Linked DNA regions of Homo sapiens: region 1 is linked to region 2. A link means that fine-mapping ties the variant in region 2 to the expression of a gene that starts in the linked region. Tissue or cell type: fibroblasts. Region 2 holds a variant in brackets; the other region holds the start of a gene. All regions are shown on one strand. Distances are between the middles of the regions.

Region 1 (2,690 bases), 74 kb after region 2:
TAAGATCACAGGGTCCTGTGAGATACAGAGGGAGGCATCTAATCCAGATGTATGTGGTGTGGAGGGAGGGGTACATTAGTGATCAGGAAACTCATAAACCATACAATGTTTGAGCTTTCTCAAAGAACCAGCAGGGCAGCTCCTGCTCAGCTAGGCAACTCCTCTTTTTGCCATAGATCTAGCTGTTCCATTCAGCCATTCACTCGTGGCTGCAGTGACCTTCCAGGTCAGTCTGGACTCTGGAAATTGCCTCCATGGTTACCTCCCTTCCCATTGATGACATTCTACAGATCGTTCAGTTTGCCCTAGGCCCCTGTCTGTTCTATATAACACTGGTTTTCTGGAAGCCGTTTGGTATCTTGGTAAGAATACCCAGATTTATAAGGGAAAAACAATAACATAAGTGCCTCCTGCTTCTTTGCTCAGATGTTTCAGTTTTTGGGAGATCATTTAGCCTCTCTGAAGCTCACCTCCTCATCTGTGAAAGGCTAGTAATTATAATACTAGTTCTTACATGAAGAGAGGGTGTAAAAATCAAATCAGATGAGGGATATGAAAGCAGGTCCAGCACAGCTCGCATATTAATTGTCTTTGTTAGGGTCTGAGCATAATGGAGTATGACTCCAATGCAAATCCTATAAATGCTGATCCTGTAAGGAGGACGAGAAGCTTTTGGAACTTTCTCAAATATATGAATAGAATTTCAATTGAATTCCTTGTTTGTTTTTCCTAGCATCTCTCAGTTCCCAATCCAGTCTGGATTTCATTCCAGCCATTTACTAGCCTTGCGTTACCTTCTCCTTCAGTTTCCTCTTGGGTATCATGGAGATAATTAAAGATACTTCAAAGAGATATTGCGAGGATCATTTGAAATAAGGAATAGAAAACACCACGTAGTGATGCTTTCTTAGGCAAGGTTTTGACCGAGGAAAGCCGCCCTTCGGTGGGAGCCTGGAGGCTTGGAAATAACCAGTGAAAAAGGGAAGCCCGTCTTGGGTGCAGCACGTTAAAGACCCAAGCTCGCAAGCCTGGGAGGCAGCGCGGCGGGAGGAGCCTGCCCCTGCCCCCAGTAGGGGGCGCCGAAGCGCCGCACTGCAGCATCCTGGCCGCTGAGCGCAGCGGCCTTGGCCGGGCTCAGCTCGCGTCCTGCCGCAGTCCCTCCGCCGCTAGTCGGAGCGAGCGCGAGTGAGGAGACCCCCGCCGGGCCACTGGCACTTGCTTCTGCGGCGAGTCCCACCCACGACCGCAGCCCAGCAACTCGCAAACGCAACCTGAAGCCTGGGCTGCGCAGTGTGGGAGGGCTTCGCGATCTTGGGGGACCCATTCCGAACTTGCAGAGGACCGTAGCTCTCCTGGCCTGGAGAGTGTGAACAGGTGAGTGTCACGCACGTGTCCAGGCAGCTCTTTCGGGACGACTTCCTGCAGACCCATTCCGAGCCCTGAGCGCGCTCGGCCTCTGAGTCGGTCCTCTTGGTCACCGGGTTCTCCTCCCAGGGCGGCTTTGGGGTTCGCTGCGAGGGAGATGTGAACACCAGCAGCCTATCTTGACAGGGCTCTCCTAGCTGAGAGGGAAAATGCCCTTTTGACTTAAGGCTGCATTTTCTCCCTAGCCTGAAAGCAAGTGACTTGCAGTCCACAATGGATTTGTTTATTCTTGCAAGATACCTGTTGAGTTCAGAGCAACATTAAATAGCCAAGGGGCTTATACAATTATCCTGGTTTGCTGTGGGTACTGCGTAGTGATAAGAAGAGGAAGAATTCCTAGTAATGAGACCAGGAAAACTTGATTTCAGAACCAGAGAAGGGGAGGCCAAAAAAGAAGAGAATCTCATTTCCAGGCCTAGACTAGGGTCTTTGCTTCCCTAAATAGCTACACTTGATTTTGATGAGCGCATGCAAACAGAAGTTCCAAGCATGATTACCTTATAAAGACGCTTGCTTGCCCCACCCCCAAGAGGAAGTAGAAAGCATGAACCTTGATAAATATAGCCTTGAGAATGATTTATTAGGAATGAAAACTTTCTTTAAATAAGTAAGTAAATAAGGTTACAGTTATCTAAATATCATAGGTCTAACAGAGTGTAAGCTCTTCGAAGGGAACTACTTTTATTTGTATGTGCATAGCGTGAAAGTGTGGAATAAATCAATGAATGCATCACTAATAATACAGGATTTTAGCTAGCGTTTTTCCTTTTTCCTTTAATTTATGTTTAGGGAAAAAAAAACCTACACCTTCAAACTAAATAGGTATGATTTTACCTTTAGAGTGATAGCAGCTGAGATGTTTTTGTCCTAATAAGCACCATCCACATAAAAAGTGAATGGCAAATTTCAGCCCTACTCAGAATATTTCAGCAGAACATTAGGACAAATGGATTTTCTTAGATCCACGTATGGAAGCTCTCAGATTATGAATTATTTGGAACATCAGAAACTTGGCAACAGTTTACTTATTACAACAATTTACATATTTATTTTTGTTTTCTATCTTGTCAAATGTAACTTTTCACATTTTCATGTGAGAAATAAAATGTTGAAGAACTCCTGTCAGTTTTGTGTCTTCCTTTAAGTGATTTTTCTAAACATAAAATTAGGTTGACAATAACCAGCTGTATCTTTATTAGGTTATAAATGGAAAAAATAGCCCACACAATTTCTCTTTCTTATGTGAAATTCCTATGCCTCTGGGG
Region 2 (2,690 bases):
GTGTTGATGAAATCTCTCAGCTTTTGTTTATCTGGGAAAGTCTTTATTTCTCCTTCATGTTTGGAGGATATTTTTGCCAGATGTACTATTCCAGAGTAAAGTTTTATTTTTTTTCCTTCAGCACTTTAAATATGTCATGCAAATCTCATCTGGCCTATAAAGTTTCCACTAAAAAGTCTGCTGCCAGGTGTATTGGAGCTCCGCTTTATGTTACTTGTTTCTTTTTTCTCGCTGCTTTTCGACTCCTTTACTTATCCTTGACCTTTAGGAGTTTGATTATTAAATGCCTTGAGTTAATCTTCTTTGGGTTAAATATTCTTGGTTTTCTATAACCTTCTTGTACTCAAATATTGGTCTTCTATAACTTTTTTGCATTAAATATCTTTCTCTATGTTGGTGAAGTTATCTGTTATTATCCTTTTGAATAAACTTTCTACCTAGATCTTTCTACCTCCTCTTGAAAACCAATAATTCTTAGATTTCTCCTTTTAAGGCTATTTTCTAGATCGTGTAGGCATGATGTATTCTTCAGTAGGTCACTTCCATTTTTCAGCTCCAAAATTTCTACTTGATTCTTTTTAATTATTTCAATTTCTTTGTTAAATTTATCTGTTAGAATTCTGAATCCCTTCTTTATGTTACCTTGAATTTCTTTAAGTTTTCTCAGAATAGCTTGTATTAGTTAATTCTCAAGCCAGTATAAATAACTACCTGAGACTGGGTAATTTATAAAGAAAAGAGATTTCATTGACTCAGAGTCCCTCGGGCTGTACAGGAAGTATGGCTCTGGAGGCCTCAGGAAACTTACGATTATGATGGAAAGTGAAGGGGAAACTGGCACATCCTACATGGCCTGCAGGAGGAAGAGAGAGAGAAAGGGGAGGGGCTACACACTTTCAAATGACCAGATCTCATGAGAACTCTATCATGAGAAGAGAAAGAGGGAAGTCTGTACCCATGATTCAGTCACCTTCCAGCAAGCCCTTTATCCAACACTGGGAATGACAATTTGACATGAGATTTAGGTGGGAATACAGAGCTAAATGTTGTCACAGCTATTTTGAATTATCTGTGTGGAAGGTAACATATGTTTGTCTCTCCAGAATTTGTTTCTGATTTCTTATTTAGTTTGTTTGGTGAGGTCATGTTTTCCTGGATC[G/A]TCTTGATGCTTGTGATTGTTAGTTGGTGTCTGGCCATTGAAGAGTTCAGTATTTTATTATAGTCTTTTCAGTCTGAACTTTTTTGTAACTGTTCTTCTTTGGAAGGCTTTCCAGGTATTCAAAAGGACTTGGGTGTTGGAATTTAAGTTTTTGTTCACTACAGTTGTATCTGCATTAGGGGGTACTCCAAGTCCAGTAATGCTGCGGTTCTTACCAATTGGCAGAGGTATCACCCTGGTGATCTTGGATAAGATCTGGAAGAATTCTCTGGATTACCAGGAAGAGACTTTTGCACTCTTCCTTTACTTTTTCCCAAACAAACCTAGTCTCTCTCTGTGATGAACACCCAGAGCTGGGGGATGGGTGACACATCACTCCTGTGGCCACCAGCACTGGAACTGTCCTGGATCAAACCTGAAGTCAGCGCATGCCAGAGTCAAACCCATGTCCCATGGTGAGTACTGCATAAGTACTGCTGCTGATTTTCAGGGACCAAGGGCTCTTTAGTCATCAGGTGGTAATAAATCCTGCAGGATTGGGTCCTTCCTTGCAAGGGAGCAAGTGTCCAGAAATGTCATCCAGGAGCTAGGGCCTGGAATGTGGGTCTTATGACTCTGTCCCGTGCCCTCTCCTACCGTGGCTGAGCTGGTATCCAATTTGCAAGACAAAGTCCTCTTTACTCTTCTTTCTGTTATCCTCAAGTTGAAGAAACTGGTCTCTTTTGGAGCTGTGAATCATGCCCTGATGTTGGGGAATGGTGATGCAAAAACTCCCTTAGCTTCCTCTGCTGGTGTCTCATTAGGGCTCATGCCCACCAAGTCCACTGGCTCCAAGCACAGCACAGCACTAGTGCTTGCATAGGAGTTGCAGTCACTGTGGCCTAGACAGTCTTTCAAGTTTATTTAGAACTCCAGAGCACTTTAGCCTGTGGTGGTGAGGCTTGACAAAACTCTAGTACTGGCTGATGAGATGGGTGATTTCCCTCTGGCTAGGGCTAATCTAAATGCTCCCCCCATGGGCATTGACTGAGTTCCAACCAGTGTTTGCAGCACTGAGTTCTAATGCAAGGACCCACAATTGCTGCACTTTCTCCCCTAAGTGCACACATTCCCTCTGTGTGCCACACGGCTGCTGCCAGGGAGTGGGGAGGGGTGGCATTGGCAATTCAAGACTGTCTTTCCTACCCTCTTCAGGGCCTCTTCCAGTGATATGAAGTTAAATCTAGGTACTTCAATCACTTGTCTGATTTTTGGTGCTTATGAAGGTGCTTTTTTAATGAAGATATTAACAGCTGTTAAATTCGGTATTCCTGTGGGGAGGATGATCAGTGGTGGCTTCTATTCAGCCATCTTGCTCTGCTTCCCATTTTATATAACATTTTATCAAAATAAACATCAGTAAGAAAAAGTCCCTTGATCTTGCTATACATTAAGAACAATGTTGTTCATATCTCGGTTGGCAAAATTCCACTTCAGCAGCTATGACAAAATACAGGCGTCAGAATTACTATGAATTTTAGTGTTGCAAATA

The links. PIP is the estimated chance that this variant, and not a neighbour inherited with it, causes the effect.
Region 1: it holds the start of RERG, and the variant in region 2 is fine-mapped to the expression of RERG in fibroblasts (GTEx, PIP 0.97).

What each region holds. Positions count from the first base shown.
Region 1 is chr12:15,219,879-15,222,568 of GRCh38, reverse strand. RERG (RAS like estrogen regulated growth inhibitor) reads left to right here and starts at 1,152. Exons shown (of 5, transcript NM_032918.3): 1 at 1,152-1,374. LOC124902886 reads right to left here and starts at 1,901. Exons shown (of 1, transcript XM_047429948.1): 1 at 591-1,901. The coding sequence starts at 1,324. The coding sequence ends at 1,007.
Region 2 is chr12:15,294,167-15,296,856 of GRCh38, reverse strand. All of the region lies in intron 2 of LOC105369673 (a long non-coding RNA gene), which reads left to right. Among named protein-coding and RNA genes, the nearest start is that of PTPRO, 27 kb to the left of the region's middle. The variant G/A (reference allele first, on the strand shown) is at 1,160.